Regions from separate parts of the Homo sapiens genome. Here regions 2 and 3 are each linked to region 1. The links come from fine-mapping of genetic effects on gene expression. A gene starts in region 1. Each other region holds a variant in brackets. All regions are shown on one strand. Distances are between the middles of the regions. Region 1 holds the start of HPCAL1 (hippocalcin like 1). Region 2 overlaps HPCAL1 (hippocalcin like 1). Region 3 overlaps HPCAL1 (hippocalcin like 1).

What was found. PIP is the estimated chance that this variant, and not a neighbour inherited with it, causes the effect. A credible set is the group of variants that fine-mapping cannot tell apart.
Region 2: its variant is the best candidate, but not a certain one, in a credible set for the expression of HPCAL1 in whole blood (INTERVAL, PIP 0.82).
Region 3: its variant is the best candidate, but not a certain one, in a credible set for the expression of HPCAL1 in whole blood (INTERVAL, PIP 0.63).

Annotation. Positions count from the first base shown.
Region 1 is chr2:10,300,043-10,305,824 of GRCh38, forward strand. It overlaps HPCAL1 (hippocalcin like 1), which reads left to right and starts at 2,862. Exons shown (of 5, transcript NM_002149.4): 1 at 2,862-3,135. LOC101929691 (a long non-coding RNA gene) reads right to left here and starts at 2,675. Exons shown (of 4, transcript XR_922791.3): 1 at 1,536-2,675; 2 at 800-971. RefSeq lists silencers at 2,397-3,176, 3,061-3,258, 3,577-3,756 and an enhancer at 3,437-3,496.
Region 2 is chr2:10,340,313-10,346,094 of GRCh38, forward strand. The region is part of intron 1 of HPCAL1 (hippocalcin like 1); the gene reads left to right. Among named protein-coding and RNA genes, the nearest start is that of HPCAL1, 40 kb to the left of the region's middle. RefSeq lists an enhancer at 3,833-4,333. The variant A/C (reference allele first, on the strand shown) is at 2,471.
Region 3 is chr2:10,384,470-10,390,251 of GRCh38, forward strand. The region is part of intron 1 of HPCAL1 (hippocalcin like 1); the gene reads left to right. Among named protein-coding and RNA genes, the nearest start is that of SNORA80B, 59 kb to the right of the region's middle. The variant G/A (reference allele first, on the strand shown) is at 2,753.

The sequences.
Region 1 (5,782 bases):
AATCTTGAGGACATTATGCTAAGTGAAATAATCCAGTTGCAAAAAGGAAATACTGTATGATTCCACTTATGTAAGGTATTAGAGAGGTAGTCATTATTTAATGGGTATAGAGTTTCAGTTTTACAAGATGAAAAGAGTTCTGGAGATGGATGGTGGTGCTGGTTGCACATCATTAATGTATTTAATACCACTGAGCTGTTCACTTTAAAAGGATTAAGATGATAAATTTTATGTTATGTGTATATTATAATAAAAGTTAGAAAAAAATTGTCATAAAACTAAGTCAGATATTAAGAACAATCAGAATTACTTCTGTCTTGTTTACAGTCATCATATGAAAAACAAATTGTTTATCTAGCATGACACCTGTTATGGGTTGAATTGTTTCCCTCAAAAGATGCTGAACTTCTAACCCTTGGTACCTGTGAATGTGACCTTATTTGGAAATTGGGTCTGCACAGATGATCAAGTTAAGATGAGGTCATTAGGGTGTGCCCTAATCCAATAATGACTGTGTCCTTATGAAAAGGGAAAAGAGACAGGTATATAGAGAAGATGTGAATTCACAGGGAGCGCACATGGCCATCCATAAGCCAAGGAATGCATGAGGTTACCAGAAGCTAAGAGACAGACATGAAACAAACTGCCCCCCACATCTCTCCAAAGGGGCCAGCCCTGCCAACACTTTGATCTTGGACTTCCAGCCTCCAGAGCTACAAAACAACACATTTCTGTTGTTTAAGTTGCCCAGTTGGAGGTGCTTGTTACATTAGCCCCAGGAAATTATACAACATCTTACCTGAATTTGCTTTCTTCTTTGCTCTAGTTAAATTCAAAACTACATATTGAATAACGACGGTGTGCTCTCTCTCCATGAAGCTTCGGGGTGGGTAGACAGTCCTCCTCTTGAAGGAACAGGAGGGACGCAAGGGAAGGGACCAACTTGTATCTCATCTGAGAGAGATACACTCCTGGAATAAGAGGTCTGCGGTTAAGTGTGTTTCTCTAGAAGTTCAGAAACAGAGGAAGCATCTGCGGGCTAAGCTGCTGAGGGCTAGGTGAGAGCTAACTGACCTAAGTTTTGAAGGATGGATGGGTGACAGGTTGGAGGGGGAAGATGGAAAAGTCACATGGGAGAGGAACAGCATGGGCCAAGTGTGGAGGAACCAGTGAGTGGGCTGGGTTTCAGAAACAGGCCTTGGTCTGCTTTTGAGCCCTCCCTGAACTTTTCCACCCCAACCCCACCTCCTGCCTGTGTCTGCCATGCACCTCCCTTCCTGTGAGTCTGTGGACAGACTTTGCCCCTTTGCCCTGTGTGTGCTTGGGAGAAATCTGCTCAGTTTCTGTGGCAGGGATGTTTCTACGTGTTCATCAAACCGGCTTTGTTTACTTCCGAAACACTCATGAAGACCACAGCTGCCAGAGCCCCTTGCATCCTGGTGGGACTGTGCGACTACTTCTGGCCCATGGATGTGGGTGGAAGTGACGTGTGCTTCCCCAGGCCTGGCTCCTGGACCCCACCGACGGCTTCTCACCTGTAACCCCACCAGCCTTCTACCTGGATACTTCACGGGGAGCTAGAGTGGCCTTGGCTAAGAAGGAGGCATGGCACCCGCGGGTACCGGGCCGCCTTCATCAGTCGGTGCACTCTGGTCCACCGCCCACATGCCTTCATGTAATCTTCACTGTAGGGCCCACAGGGAGGGGAACTTCCTCGAGGTCTAGCTTTGCCTTTCCGCCTTCAGAGCCAAGTAAGAATGAGGGGTCTGGGCTCGGCCCACCTTCCCTGCAAGGCCCTGTGCCCGCTCCCCTCAAAGCTGGTCTTGCATGTTGCTCTGGCGGCCTCTGTAGCAGGAGTTCACTCTGTTTTCCGTGGAGGAGGAGTGGAAGGAGGGATTCAAGCTCTCCCCTAGAGACGCTAGAAAGACAGTTTTGTCTCAGCCTCATACGATCGCCCAGCTCCACATTTCTGGCTGTTTCTGTGGTTACCTTTCTTCGGGGATGTTTGGGGCGGGAGGTGGGTGTGTGTGTATATTTGCTCTTCTGAAGCCGTTTTTCCGGAGCTCCTGGTGGGGGTGGGGGTGCTCTGTCCCTGGTTCCTCTCGAGGCAGGTGCAGGGGATGGAGGATGCCCCCCTCCCCGAGAGCCAGGAGGCGCCGACCCTGGGCAGGAGGTGCCAGACCGGCGCCTCTCCCGCGTGGAGCTCGAAGACCACAGATGCCTGGAAGGGAGGAGCACCTTCCGTGGTTAGGTGGGGAAACCGAGGCAGAGGCGGCCCAATGGACTCGCCTAAACGGCCTGGGGAGTCACTGCAGGTAACCAGAGCTGGAGCCAGGCTTCCCACTCCAGGCCCGGGGCTCTCCCCCGAACAGGCGTGGGAAGGGGTGCGAGCTGCACGCGGGGCTGGGGCTGGGGGTGCGGGGCTGGGGCAACTCGGCTCTTCCCCTTCCTAGGCCGCCCGGGCCACTTCCTGCGGCGTGGGGGCGGGGGGCGCGGGCGCAGGGCTGGCCCCTCCCGGGCGCCGCCTCTCGGCCTCTTCTATACCAGCAGGCCAGAGGCCAAGGGTTAGGGGAACAGAACCGGTGCCCGGCTCCGCCCCTGTCCCGAAAGCCACTGGGGGCTGGGACCCGGCAGGGCCAGGTTTGGGCCGCGAGGGCCGAGGAGCAGCGAGGTGCAGGGGCTGCGAGGGCCGAGCCGGGCGCTGAGGGTCCGGCAGGGGGCGTGGAGGGGGCGGGGCCCGGAGGGGGCGGGGCCGTAGGAAACTTGAGCGCCCGCCTCTGGCCGCGCGCCCCGCCCCGGCCCCCGCCTCCGGGTCCCGCCTCCAGGTCCCGCCTTCGCGTCCCTTCCTTCCCGGAGCTGGCAGGCGGGCCGCGGCGGCGGCGGGCAGCGGACGGGCGGACTGACGGGCGCCTCCACCTTGCTCCCTCCCTGGCTGCCGGCTTCCTTTTGTCTTTCTGGGCGGCGATGAGCGCAGGGCCGGCGCAGCAGCTGCGGGCGCACGGAGGCCCGCGCTGCTAGTCACTCCTCCCGGCCTCGGCGCGCTTGTCCCGGGCAGCGGCCCGGGCCCGCTGCAGCCGCCGCCGGCGCCGAACTTGGGCTCGGGAAGCCGGCGGACCGCGTCCTGCGCCGGAGCAGGTAGGGAAGGGGCGGGCTGCGGTCTGCTGGCTGCTGAAGTGTGCCCCGGGCGTGTGCACCCGGCGTGTGCACCGGCGAGCGCTGCGATCCGGCTCTTTGCGTGTGTGTTGTGCGCGCGTGTGTGTGTCCGGGAGTGCCCGCGTTTCTCTGCGCGGTGGAGTTGTGGGTGACTGCGGACGGTGGTGTGTCTTTCGAATGGCGTGTACTCGTGGGCATCCATGTGTGCCTTAGGTGTGCACATTTTGGACTGCGTTTGTGGAATTGTGTGTCGGGGCGCAGTTGCTGGTGGGGAGCGGTGCCTGGCGGGTGTCGTGTGTGAGCAGCTGTGCGCAGAGCGGGGTGGCGGGGTGGGTGTGGGTGGTCCAGCCCCACGCCCAGAGCCCCCTGTCCCTGCTGGTCGGCGCAGTGCGTAGCTTAGGAGCCTCGAGGACAGCTGGGACCCGACGGGCAAGGGCGGGCCTCGCGGGCAGGCTGGGCAGCCCTCAGGGAACAGGTCCGTGCGGCCCACGTGGGTCGCCTGTGAGCTTCTGCCAAGGGTGGGGGCCCACGCGGAGGCGATCCGCTCGTTCCTCCCAGGGCCATGGGGCGACGAGGAGAGCCCTGGCCTCCCCGCGACCCGCACTGCGACCTGGGCCAGACGCGCCACCTTCCCCGGTCGCGGTTTGCTTCTCTTTAAAATGAGGACAGCTCCTCCCTTGGGGGCTGTGGTGACAGGTGAAATGAGAACGCACTGAAGACAGCTCTTGGTCCAAAGCCCCGCACACAGTAGGTACTGTGTTAATTGGATTAGCGTCTCCTGTTTAAAATCCTTTTTTTTTCCCCTTTATCGTGGGTGGGGCCTTACATTTTCCCCGGGCGTGTTTTGTGCCTCTCCCTGGCCCTAACTTAACCGCGAAGCACTGAGATTCGAGAAAGTTTAGCTGCCAGCTGCGCTGCCTCCTGCAGCACCTCCCGGGCGGCGCCGCCTCCGCGAGTGCCCGAGAGCGCCGCGCTGGGCGCCGGCCCTGCCCCAGCCCCCAGGCTCCCGCGCAAGCGTGGGGGTCCCTCTCCTGGCCGGGAGGCAGCGACTGCGGAGTTGAGAACCCTTTGGTTCAACAAGTTCCTAGTCCGGGAGGATGCAGCTCAGCTCGTGGAGTCCGAGAGTCACGGCGTAAAATTGGCGCTTCCCGCACATGCAGATCTCGGGCTCCCGGGGTGTCCCGGCCGCCAAAGGCCACCCCTTTCCTCCTGGCTGACCCCAATTCCACCAGAGGAGGATGTTTGCCAGGGACGCCGAGTCCAGCTGCTGGCCTCGGCATTAGACAACCCCCAGCCCCAGCCCCTGCCATCCCTGCTCCCTTGCAGCCAGCCTCATGCCGGGGGTGCCACATGGGACACCTCCTCCTAGTCCCACACCTTAATTTAAAACATTTACTTTTGAAACCTACTAGTCGTAAAATTGAACCGCAGTGAACGAGCACCCAGCTCTTACCACGACTCACTCTCTGGAGAGTTCTGGCGCCTCGGCGCTGGCTCGGACGCAGCAAGGCCAGCTCTAGGGGTCGGGTGGCTCTCGGCCAGAGCGAAGGATATTCTTTCCCTTCATCGCCTTGGTGTCTTTCTCTGGGGGAAAAAAATCGCCTTTAACCAAGGGAGCCAAGATCTCACCAGTGCAGGAGGCTCTCAAAATGGAGCGCCGGCATGGGGTTGGGCTGCGGAGGGGACAGCATGGGCGGCCTTTTGGTATGGATGCGCTTCCCAACTGTCAGGGGCTACGTGATGGTGTTCCCAGAGAGGCGGGCTGCTTTGCGGGCTTTTAGGAGCCAGGGATAGAAACCTGGTCCGGTTCCTTTGGTTTCCCTCGGCCGAGACTGAAGCCCTGCAATCCTAGCCATGGCAGGCCAGGGGGATGCGATGAACTCATTTTCTCATTTTTCATCCTGACTTAGTGACAGGGGCACACTTAGAATGCACCCTGTTTTCTGTTTCATCAAATGATTTTATGTCCTACAAGAAAAAAGGGCTTTTGGTGTGAATCCTACTCTTTCCTCATAATCAGGTTCCATAATAATATTAAAAAAAAAATCAGTCTGGCTTTCTCAGCTCAGAAGACAGACCCAAACCCAGGTTTGTGTTTTGTTTTGTTTTTGTTTTTTTCTAGTTAAAGCCAGCCCTTTGTCTCAAGCAAGCCAGTGTTTTGGCCTTAGATCTATTTCTGTTTCACTTTTGAAAGTGCCTGTAATTACTGAGCTCTTGAGGTTTTATTGGATAATGTGGCAAAGGGAAGGCCCGGGGGCCCTGCCTCTCCCTTGCGGTGGGATGTGGTGCCACGGTGGCACATTCTAGCCTTGCCTGCTCCCTCTGCGTCCCACTTTCATGCTGTTTTTAAGGTGGAACAGAAATGTCAATGTGTGATAACAATTTGGGAGACTTTGTCTTTGGAATCCAATAAATGGAAGGTCCTTTGATCTGTGGAGAAACCAGAACAAGTCAAAACCCCAGAAGAACAGAGATTTGCCCAAACTCCAGCCAATGACCCATTTATTTCCAACAAGCCCTCCTAGAGATAGATTCTAAGTGAAATACAAGAACGTGGACACACTCCGTCCCCTTTCTGGCCACAGGGCTGTGCAGAATTAGAAGTGCAGTCTATGGAAGGACAAGGACT
Region 2 (5,782 bases), 40 kb after region 1:
GCAGTGTCTAGGCTGCTTTCTAACCATGTAAGGTGTAGCCACAGTATTGTAGGACCTGTTGCTAAGAACTGTGCCACTATCTTGATAAACATGTTTTCCAGGGACTGGTGGTGGAATGTTCTAGTTATTAATGTGCCTTTAACGTTGGATGACTCAGAATATCCCTCAGATAGTAGGAATAGGTAGCTTTGAGAGGTCATCTGTAGGAGGGCGCAGGAACATCCCAGGAGGGGGTGTCATACCTGTTGGCACCATGGGGATGCAGGCTCAGAGGGGACTGAACTTTCCAGGGCCACGCAGTCTGTAAGCGGCAGAGCTGGGACGCAACCCCAAGCTTGCTGCTCTCAAAGCTTTGCTTTCAAACTCTCACTTCAGACATCAGGGCTTCCTTTCAGACTGAGTCTTATCCCTAAGCACTGTTGGAGAAGAAAGTCTCCAGGCTGCAGGGCCCCGCAGTTCCCCCATATCCCTGCCCTTCCAGCCAGCCCACGCCTGGGGCCTGTCCTCCCCTGTTCCTGAATCCCTGTCCTGTTACTGCCCTCCGGGTAAGACAGCACTCTTATAATCATGCTTCATGCCGAGTTCATGAAATTAACTCTCAAACTCCTCTTCTCTGGGTTAAATTATTTCACTTTTTTCCCTTCCTCATAGAATATCATTATAAATTCTAGATACTATATTGGATATGTAATAAAATCAGAATAAATTACATGTGATGGCCACTGAACTAACCTCCCTTCATGTGTCTGGAGGCAGGTTTTCTGTGGAGTTATGCTTTAAATTGGCTGTCCTTCGCGATTTTTCTTAAAGCCTAGGTTGACTACTCAAGGGTCTAGATTTATGATAGAAACTGTGGGCTGGGGTGCAGTGCTGGGGTGCTGGGGTGCCTGTAATCCTAGCACTTTGGGAGGCTGAGGTGGGCGGATCATTTGAGCCCAGGAGTACAAAACCATCCTGGGCAACACGGTGAAACCCCATCTCTACAAAAAAATACAAAAATTAGCCAGACACGGTGGTGCATGCCTGTACTCGGGAGACTGAAGCGGGAGGATCACCTGAGCCCAGGAAGTCGAGGCTGCAGTGAGTCATGATTGCGCCACTGCACTCCAGCCTGGGCAACAGAGCAAGACCTTATCTTAAAAGCAACAACAACAACAACAAATTGTGGCACAAATGTATGCATGGAGGTACTGAGGGCCTTCTTTATAGTAGGCTCAGGAATGACCAATGGGTGGGGGCTTTGGGGGAAGAGACGGGGGTCTTTAAGCAGAAACTCTCCCCTCAACACAAGAAAGCTGCTGAAGGACTTCAGAAACCTAAACACGAGCCGTGGGCCTTTCTAAAGTGGGGAGGGATTCCCTCCTGCCTAGGTTATGTTGCAAGGCTGCCCGAGAGAGGGTGGAAGGGGGCAGGAGAGTGGGCATTGGCTGGGTCCAACGCTTCCCAAGAGATGTGACTGTCTTAAAAGCAATACCTTCCTGATTACCACGGGAAAAATTCAAATGTTTTGAAAAGATCTACAAGTTTGGGGTTGAAGAAGTCCTTTATTTCAAAGTTTCTCTGGGCTGGGCGTGCTGGCTCACACGTGTAATCCCAGCACTTTAGGAGGCTAAAGTGGGAGGATCACTTGAGGATTGCTTTGAGGCCAGCCTGGGCAACATAGTGAGACTCTGTCTCTAGATAAAGTTTTTTTTTTTTTTTTAAATTAGCCAGATGTGGTGGTGGTGTGCTCCTGTAGTCCCAGCTACTTGGGAGGCTAAGTTGGAAGGATGACTTGAGCCCAGGAGGTTGAGGCTACAGTGAGCTCTGATTGTGCCGCTGTGCTCCAGCCTGGTGACAGAGTGGACCTTGTCTGTAAAAATAATAATAATAATAATAAAGCTTTGCTCCCCGTTTCATTTAGATGGAGCGTTTGTGGGATTTAAGACAGATTTTTCCTTGCTGAGTGGTTATCATTAACCTGTTGAATAAGCAACAGGCCGAGGTGGGGACCCTGCCTCGCCCGCCTCCAGGGGCACACTGCATTCTTTGTGGAAGTGTCCCTGGAATGCCACAGCCCTGCTTCTGTGCGAGGCCAGTCAGTCTGGGTCCTGGGATATAGCCACATGTGCAGTCCGTGCCTCCAGCGCGCAGCCTGAAAGGGAGGCGTGCAGAAACAACGTAGCTCCAAGGAGGACTGATCAGCCCAGCCTGGGGGAGGGTGGGAGGGGACTCCCAGGGAGCGGGGCTTGTGCTGGACTTTGCAGGATGCCAGACTTTTGGCAGGGGAGGAAATTGAGGTGAAAGCATTCCAGGCCTAGGGAACAGCATGTGCAGAGGTGCTGGCTGGAGGAACCCCGTGTGTTTGCACTGTGCTCTGAGCTCCCTCTCATGACTCTCATTCTTTCTCGTTGAGTTTTGTTTTGTCACCCAGCCGGACTCCTGGGCAAAGAGAGGCACAATCTGTTCCCGGTTGGGCCAGCTGCCCTCC[A/C]GTAGCTACGCAGGATGCTCTGGCCGGCCTCTGAGGATTCTCTTCTTCTGTCCATCTCATGGCTGAAGACCAAGGCTATGGCCTGTGGGTGGCAGTTGGTACCTCTCCCCGCTGCCTTCCCCCGGCCCCTTTTTGGACAGGATGTTGCTCCCTGGGGCCTGGCTTTGGAGATGGCCAGTGCTGGTTTGAAGCTTCTGTCTTCTGTGTGGGATATCAGTGCCCTGCCAGCTGTTGCAAGTTTTAAACTCAATGTGCCTCTGGATGTGTGTGTAGAGTAGGGGTCCTTCCCCAGCTCCAGGCCCTGTGTGTTTCCAAGTGGGCCCGCAGCTCTGATGTGCAGTGGGTATGCACTGGCAAGCCGTGCACTGTCACAATATTAAAATAACTTCCATGGTAGTTGGTAAATAGCCCCATCACCCCTCTCCTGGGACCCTGGACCTCTAGCACACCATGGAGGCCTGCCCCGTCCCCATAAAACACACCACATTCAAATTACTTATCTCCTCTTCCCCTGCCACTCTGCTGAGAAGGCTGATCTCAATCCTCGGAGTAATGACTCTCTTCTAGGAGCAAGATGATGCTAATTCTCACTAGCATGTGAAGGACTGATAGCACCATATCTCCCTCCAGGACTCCCGGGTGGGAGGTGGGTGTTTGCATAGGCAGGCAGGTGAGCCAGCCTAGTTTGTCCACAGACTTCCATGCAAGTGATTCCTGCTGTTCCCTGGGTCTTCCTTTCTTTTGCTTCTGAACTTGGAGGTTTCTTGAAGTCTGGAGGATTTTTAGGGTGGGCATGGCTTTAGGTGGGACCTCCACTATATGGGTTTGCAAGCTGCCACTGCTTTGACTGCAGACACTGGATTGACCGTGGCCAATGCCAAGTCCAAGAGATCAGGCTGAAACCAGGCTAAATTTTAAGAGCAGAAACAAAACTCATCCTTGCGAAGGGACTTTTAGATCAGTGGCAGATGGCATAGAAAGTCTTTCTGCTGTTCTCTTGTGCTGGGCGTGGCTCAGGGCTGAGGGGAGAGAGGAGAGATGAGGGCAGAAAGAGAAGAGGGGGCAGGCCTCAGGGATGAACACATGGCCCATGGCTGTGCGCTTCCCAAGCAAGCAGTTCTGGAGTGAGGCTTGGGCCTCCATGCCTCCTGGGAGGCTGCACCTCTTGGGATATAGAGAACGCTGGCTTCAGACCCGGCAGGAGTACCGGCGGCTGTGTGGTGCATCCTGCACAGAGCTGTTGCTTTCTAACTGGGTTACTGAGCTGTCGAAGGAGCAGGGATGAAGACTCCCTTATTAAAAACTAAACAAAACACAACACGAAAAAGCCAGAACAAAACAAGCAGACGGTTGAGGACTGCAGTGAACTCATTAACCCTACAGCTTTGATCTCGAAGTCTCGGCCGCTCCTGGCTCAGAGGACCCTGGGGACGTGGTCTTTGATGCTTGCTTTCCCCATAGGCATCACTTCGACCAGCGTCTGTGTGGGGTGTGCAGCAGCCCTGAGCCAAGGATTAATTACGTAACAAGCCCAGATCCCATCCCTGCCTGAGCAGGCCATGTGCCAGCAAGGGGGGCCCCGAAGTGCCGCTAGGTGCCTCACGATTAGCATAAGGCCCGTTTATCCAGGAAGCCAGAACCAGTGCACATCTGTTAAGCGCATGCACCAAGCGGCGATTCCATAGTTGTATAGTGATTGTCTTTATGGAACTCCAGAATAGCTTCTTAGATATCACTCTTCAGGCCCTGAAATGGAGCCCTGTGCAAAGAAATGAAGAAAAGCTATCGGGGCATCTGCAGCCACTATTATACCATCTGGCAGCTCAGAAATATTTTATAATCAAATGAGTAAGACGGGCGTCCCACACTCCACAGTACTCTGCTCCCCCTTCCCTTCCTCCCAGGACTTGCTCTGTCTCTGTCTCTTTCTCTGTGTCTGTCTGTCTGTCTCTATGTGTCTGTTTCTCTCTCCCTCTTTCTGTGTGTGTCTCTCTCTGTGCCTGACTTTCTGTCTCTTTCTGCTTCTCTCTCTGTGTCTGTCTCTGTCTCTCTCTTTCTGTGTGTGTCTCTCTCTGTGCCTTTCAGTCTCTTTCTGCCTCTCTCTATGTGTCCGTTTCTCTTTCTCTCTGTGTGTCTCTCTCTCTGTGCCTTTCAGTCTCTTTCTGCCTCTCTCTATGTGTCCATCTCTCTCTCTTTTTCTGTGTGTCTCTCTCTCTGTGCCTTTCAGTCTCTTTCTGCCTCTCTCTATGTGTCTGTTTCTCTCTCTCTCTCTTTCTGTCTCTCTCTGTGCCTGTCTTGCAGTCTCTTTCTGCCTCTCTCTGTGTGTCTGTCTCTGTCTCTGTATGTGTCTGTCTCTGTTTCTGTCTGTCTTGCTCTCTCTGTTTCAATCTCTCTATCTCTGTGCCTGCCTGTCTGTCTGTCTCTTTCTTTCTGTCTCTCTGTGTGTGTCTCTCTCTCCGTCTTTGGGACAGACTAGAGGAACCTTTTTCCCAGGAGTGATAATACTGTACTCTGCGTTTTTGCCACTTGCTAGCTGGGTGACCTTGGGCGGCTTTCAAGTTCCCTTATCCTGGGTTTCTTCATTTGTAAAATGGAAGCACTACTTCACAGTGCTGTTGTGTGGGTCAAGATGAGATGAATGTGACCTACTGTGGTACTATTTATTATTTGTCCTAGAAAAACTTTTTTTTTTTTTTGAGACAGGGTCTTGCTGTCACCCAGGCTGGAGTGGTGGCACAATCTTGGCCTACTGCAACCTTGACTTCCCAGGCCCAAGCGATTCTCCCACCTCAGCCTCCCAAGAAGCTGGGACTACAGGTGTGAGCCACCACACCCAGCTAATTTTTGTATTTTTTGTAGAGACAGGGTCTTGCTATGCTGCCTGGGCTGGTCTCGAACTCTTGGGCTTAAGCGATCCTCTCACTTCAGCCTCCCAAAGTGCTAGGATTATAGGCATAAGCCACTGCACCCATCCAGAAAAACTTTTAAAAATTTTGTGTTTTAACTTTTTCTGAATATAAAAGTGATACATGCATGTTCACTGTAAAATAGAAAATATAAAGAAACTAGAAAACTATTTATGACGCCCCTCCCCCACCACAAAAGGGGCAAGGACTGCGAACTTTTGCCGTATTTTGGAAGATTTCCTAAGTCACACAAGCACACAGATGGTCTGTTGATCCAAACCAGGAAGAACAATTGTGGGAATAAGTGGAAGTGTGAGTGTGTGGGTGTGTCTGAGTGTGTGCCCTGGGGGTGTGTGTGTCTGTGTATGTGTGAGAGAGCCAGGCTGTGTGTGTGTGTGTATGCATG
Region 3 (5,782 bases), 84 kb after region 1:
ATGCTTGCTTGGTGCACGGTGCTGTGCTGGGCACTGGGGCAAGGCCCCCTCCCCCATGGGGCTACAGATGCTAATCTGCAAATCCCAGAAAAGTGGAATCTCGGTGGCAGAGTGGATGAAGGGGAGGTGCTCAGTGCTATGAAAGCCAGCAGCTGGGAGTTTCAGGGGCTTCCCTAGGGAGGGACCCTGAGCTGGGGTCTGAAGGAAGAGCAGTTCACTGGGGAGTTAGGGAGTGTTCTAGGCAGAGTAAACAGTGCAGTGGCAGCCGGGGCTGGCACTTTTAAAGAAAGCCTCAAGACTTCTCTTTCTGATTGTGAAGTGAGCTGAGCAGACTGAAATCAAAGATGTGAAAATAAAGATAGAGGCGACAGGCTGGGTGCGGTGGCTCATGCCTGTAATCCCAACGCTTTGGGAGGCCGAGGTGGGTGGATCACAAGGTCAAGAGATGGAGACCATCCTGGCCAACATGGTGAAACCCCGTCTCTACTAAAAATACAAAAATTAGCTGGGCATGGTGGCACACGCCTGTAATCCCAGCTACTTGGGAGGTTGAGGCAGGAGAATCACTTGAACCCGGGAGGTGAAGGTTGCAGTGAGCCAGCCTGGCGATAGAGCAAGACTCCGTCTCAAAAAAAAAAAAAAAGATAGAGGTGACAGGAAGACCCCACCATGAGTGGCCTCCACTGAGTGCGCATGTGAGTGAGCAGCTGTGCGGTGGTCCTTGCCATCTTCCCATCAGCCCCTCCCAGCCCCTGGGCCTGGAGAGGCTGAGAATCTGACCTAAGGCTGCCCAGTGGCGTGAGGCTGGCCTGCCGAGCTTACGTCCCTGGGGGACTCCAGGACCCCAGTGCTTCCTACTGGTGGCTTCAGCTCCCGGTCACTTGTCGGGAATGCAGGGCTGAACCCCTGGAGGTTGTGTGGGACAGGGCCCAGGAATCTGCATTCTAGCAAGCACCTGCTCCAGGCTTGCTTCCCTGGCAGGGAGGCTTGGTGATCCAAGTTCCTTGGGTGCAGACACTTGCTGCTTCTCTCGGAGGCCGGGCTGGGCTGTGATTTTTTCATCCAATGTGCTGGGCTGATTTCACTTGCGGATGCAGAATGAGAAGCTGTAGAGGAGATCACGGCAAGCTGTCTGCATGGACGATGGCAGAATCCGGTGTCTGCTTGGCCGCGTGGTGTCACTAATAGGATTTGCCGAGCCTTTTGGATGTTTGTGGCGCGACGGCTGCTGTGGGAACCCAGAGGCTGCTCATTTGCAGGGAATGAATAATTTATTTCTGTTTTCAGATGACTTATTCCTTCATCTGCAGCCGAGCCCCCACATGTTCTGTAGGCTCCTGATTAAGTGATTTCAGCAGGAGAATTTGGCTTAATCCCCCACTGCCCTGGACGCCTGGTTCCAGGCTGCTGATTTGTCGGCCTCGTGTCGGGGGGTGTCCGGAGCCTCTCCTCTCTGGGGGCTTTTCTTCCTGCTCTGCCTGTTTGGGAAGCCTCTGGCCACTGAGCATGTGCTGGCCTTGGGTTTTACGGCTGTCTGGCAATTAGAATATTAATGTCGATAACACAGCAGGACTTGCGTGTGACAAGCTGAGCCACATAACGTCACAGTCGCTCTTGAACATCTCGGACTTTCACATGGGCCAGCCACACCCCAGCCTAGGTTGCTCCCTCACCTCCTCAGGGCCTCCCTGATGTCGGTTTAGACATGTGCCTTCCATCTTGCCTGGGCCACCATGTTGATCCTCTGGGTCCATTGCTCAAGAGCCCACCATGGCTCCCTGTTGCCAAATGCAGCCTGAATTCAGTATTCAAAGCCCTCCGTGAATGGGCTTGGTCCTTCCTCCCTGGCCTCTCTTGCGTGGCTCCATGCTCTGAGCTGCCTACTCGCTGACTCATTCATTTAATGTTTATTCTTTGGTTGTTGTTTCAGCACTGAGTGGGTCTGTGGAATCATTTACATGTTTATTGAGAGTCCCCCTGGCTGCAGATGCTGGGCAGGGGCTTTGATGTGGGGAGAAAGACCCCCCCCCAGGTTACAGGTAAGCCCTCCCAAGTGGCCCAGGGCCCTGGGAGGGGGTGAGGTTGTGTGAGATGGCAGTGTGGGAGAGTCTCAAATTTTTGGCATCTTTAATCTGCCCACTGGGTGAGATTGAGGACTCAGGTGGGTGTCAGGGGCTTTGAATGCCAAACCACAAAGGTCTGCAGGCTGGGGGAGCTGCAGGAGGTTGTCATCAGTGGCAGGGGCCTTGGAGCTTGGTGGAGGAGACCACGCTTCAGATGGCCAGCTGGAGCACCCCCCACCAGCCCCGCTGCCTGGACCCCTTCCACCTCTCCATGGACCCACCTCAGGCCCTACCCACCCTCTGCACCGCCTTGCACGGCATTGCTTAATTTCACTGCAATGGCTCACTGGGGCTGCTTTCCTCCCTCTCTTATTGCTCTCTGGGTGAGAGTTGGTCTCTGGCCTCCACATGAGGCAGGGACAGTGCCCAGGGAGTGGCCAGTGGGAGAAGCGGGGCTTGCAGGCCAGGTGGGCCCAAGTGTGATTCCTGGTGCAGTGCTGGTGGCTGTGTCGCCCGGGGCAAGTGGCTCAGAGCCTGTTTCTCATCTGCAGATGGGGGGATGGTCTGTACCTGTCCAGCACCCATGAGGAGCAGGTGGAACAGGATGTGGCAGTCAAGGGCTCCTGAGGGGACCCGTAAGTGCCACATTCAGCCTTCTGTGTTAAGGACCATGAGTCCAAAGAGTAGTC[G/A]CGTGTGAATCCACCTCCTTGTGCCAGCCTCACGGCCTCCTCAGGAAGGGCATGGAGGAGCAGTGGGATGCCCACGGTACCGTGGAGGAAGCAGTCCTGGAGGAAGGGTGACTGGCCGAGGGCCATGCGGTGACGCACTGGGGACTGGCTCTAGCTGCTGTGGGGCACGTCCACGTGGAGAAGCGCTTGGTGTATTCCCCCACCCTCTCACCCCCACAGCGTTCCTGGTGCTCTGGGTGCCTGCTGTTTCTGAGCCATCTAGGTGGGCACAGGGACAACCTCACCAGGGACAGTGTGGCCCCATGCTGGTAAGCAGGCGATACTGACCCTGGTTCCAAACTGCATTCCTGTTGGTCCTTTGTCTTGCTCTTCCGGTATCATTACGAACACAACTTTAGAAAGTTTAACAGTGGTACTCAGAGAGGCTTGTGGCCCCAACTCATGTGACAGTGACCAACAGGTGAAAGGTGACTTGTGGTCTGAACACCTGCAAGGGACACTTATTCCGATGCCTGAATCTTTGCATCTCTGCCCAGCAGATGACAGCACCTGGAGTGTTAGCTGGTCATACCTGGACCTGCGAGTGTAGGTAAGACCCTTCTTCTCAGGGCCTGTTTGCTCAACTGCACGATGGAAGGGTTGGGCAAGATGGATCTTTCCTTTCTTTTCTTTTCTTTTCTCCTTTGCAGTTGAACATTTTTCTTGCCACTGAAATCACAGGTGGAGGTCTGTGTGTTCGGCAGGTGAATGGCCATGCAGGGGTGGAGGGAGGCCTGGATGCTTTTTCTTCCCTGCACTCGCAGGCCCCCCATGGGACCCTCAGCCCCCAGAGGACAATTGGAGGCTTCTGGACTAGGGTTCTAAGGTCTCCTGAGAAGGTCAGAGGCTCGTTGTCCGGCCAAGACAGACAGCAGACAGTTGGCGTGTCTCAGGGTAGGAGGCTCCCCAAATAGAAAGTACTGGATTGGGAGCGGATTTATTGTTCCCTGCCTCCCCGGGGCCGTCGGCATTTCCCCTGTGGCTGCCTCACTGTTCTGATGTTGGCAAAGGTTTGTTTTATCTTCCTCCTTCCAGAACAGGAGGTGCCTCAGTGCCTCAGATGCTGCCTGAGAAGGTCAGTGGCATCTGGGAGCCATGGTGAGGGTGGCAGTGACTGGGCTCGGGAGGTTCCAGAATTCTGTTAGTGAGCAGTGAGCTGTTTTATTTTCCTTCCTGCCTATGGAAGGTCCTGAGTGAACAAACAAGTTTCAGTCTCAAGACAACACATCGTGTTTCGAGGTGACCTGTCCCCACCCCACCCCTGTCACTGGGAGAAGACTGCAGGTCTCACGGTCTCCCGTCTGTCTCTGCTGCCCCCAGGTCCAGGGACTCCTGCGATTTCTCTCCCTGGTGCCTGGTATTTTTGTAGCACTCTCTGGTTTTCAAAGTTTTCCTACAACAATTGTGCTTAAAATGAAATATAAACTCCATCCCCAGCCCCCAAGTCCCACTCCCTGCCGACCTCGTCTCTTACTGGGAAGGCCCATCTTTGTCACCAGCAGCAGCTGTGAGTGCCTCGTCAGTGTTTAAGAGTCCAGGTCGCTGCAGCATCTTGGTGTGTACTGTGGACCCATTGTGTGTGTGCCCCCAAATTCCTGTGCTGAGACCCTCACTCCGAGTAGGATGTTATTAGGAGGCGGGGCCTTTGGGAGGTAATTTGGTCATTAGTGCCCTTATAGGAAGAGGATGCGAGCCAGACCTGCCTCTGCTGTCTACCAGGCAAGTATATAATGAGAAGGTGACGTAGGAGGCGGGACTCGACTCCAGAGGCAGGACTCAGACACCAGACCAAATTGAGGACTAGCTACAACAGGGCCAGGGTAGAAACAGCTTTCCCTAAGACGTGCCCACCAGTGTGCATGTCAGTTTACCACTGCCATGGTAATACCCGGAAGTTACGGCTCCTTTCCGTGGCAATCATCTGACGACCTGGAAATTACCACCCTTTTCCTAGAAATTTCTGCATAATCCACCCCCTAATTTGCATGTAATTAAAAGTGGGAATAAATCTGATTGCAGTGCCGCCTCTGAGCTGCTGCTCTGGGCACACTGCCTGTGGGGTAGCCCTGCCCCGCAAGGAACAGTCCCTCTGCTGCCGCTGGGCACAGCTGCTTCAGTAAAATTGCTAATACCACCGGCTCACCCTTGAATTCTTTCCTGAGTGAAGCCAAGAACCCTCCTGGGCTAAGTCCCAGTTTGGGGGCTCACCTGCCCTGCAAGATCAGGAGCCATCTGTACACCAGGAAGACAGCCCTCCCCAGAACTCAACTGTGCTGGCACCTTGATCTTGGACTTCCAGCCCCCAGAACTGTAAGAGGTAAATGTTTGTTATTGAAGCCACCCAGTCTATGGTAATTTGTTAGAGTGGCCTGGAGGAAGACACAGTATTAAGTAAGGCTTCGTGTCTGACTTCACTGAACACTGCGGTTGTGAGACGCATCTGTTGTGTGGGGCACTGAGGTTCATTCTGATTGCTTTATGGGACTCTGTTGTGACTGTACTCCAGTTTCTCTGCCCGTGGAATGTACATGGATGTTTGGATAGTTTCCAGGGTGGGGCTGGGACAAATTGTGCAGCTCTGAGTGTTCCTGCACATGCTTTGTCTTGGACATGTGTCCTTCTTTCTGTTGGACATACATGAAGGAGGTCAGCTGCTGCTTCACGGGGCATGTGTGTGGTCATCTTTAGTAAATATGCCAGTTTTTCAAAGTGGTCATAGACAGTAGATTCCTTTTATTATGTGACAAGAGCTCAAATGCCCTGGTAGTGGGAGTGGCAGCAGGAGCTACAGTAAGACATTGCACATTCTCTGGAAGTCAGGGATCCCTGCCAGTCAGTTCCCAGTGCCCCAGGAACCAGGGGTTTGGTGCTGGGCACTAGTCATGACCACTCGCGGCTCAGGTGTTGGGTGGTCTTTCCAGACCTTCACCTGTGTGAAGCTTGCAACCTGGATGGTCTCATGTGGACATCTTGGCTTCCACCCTGTGCTCT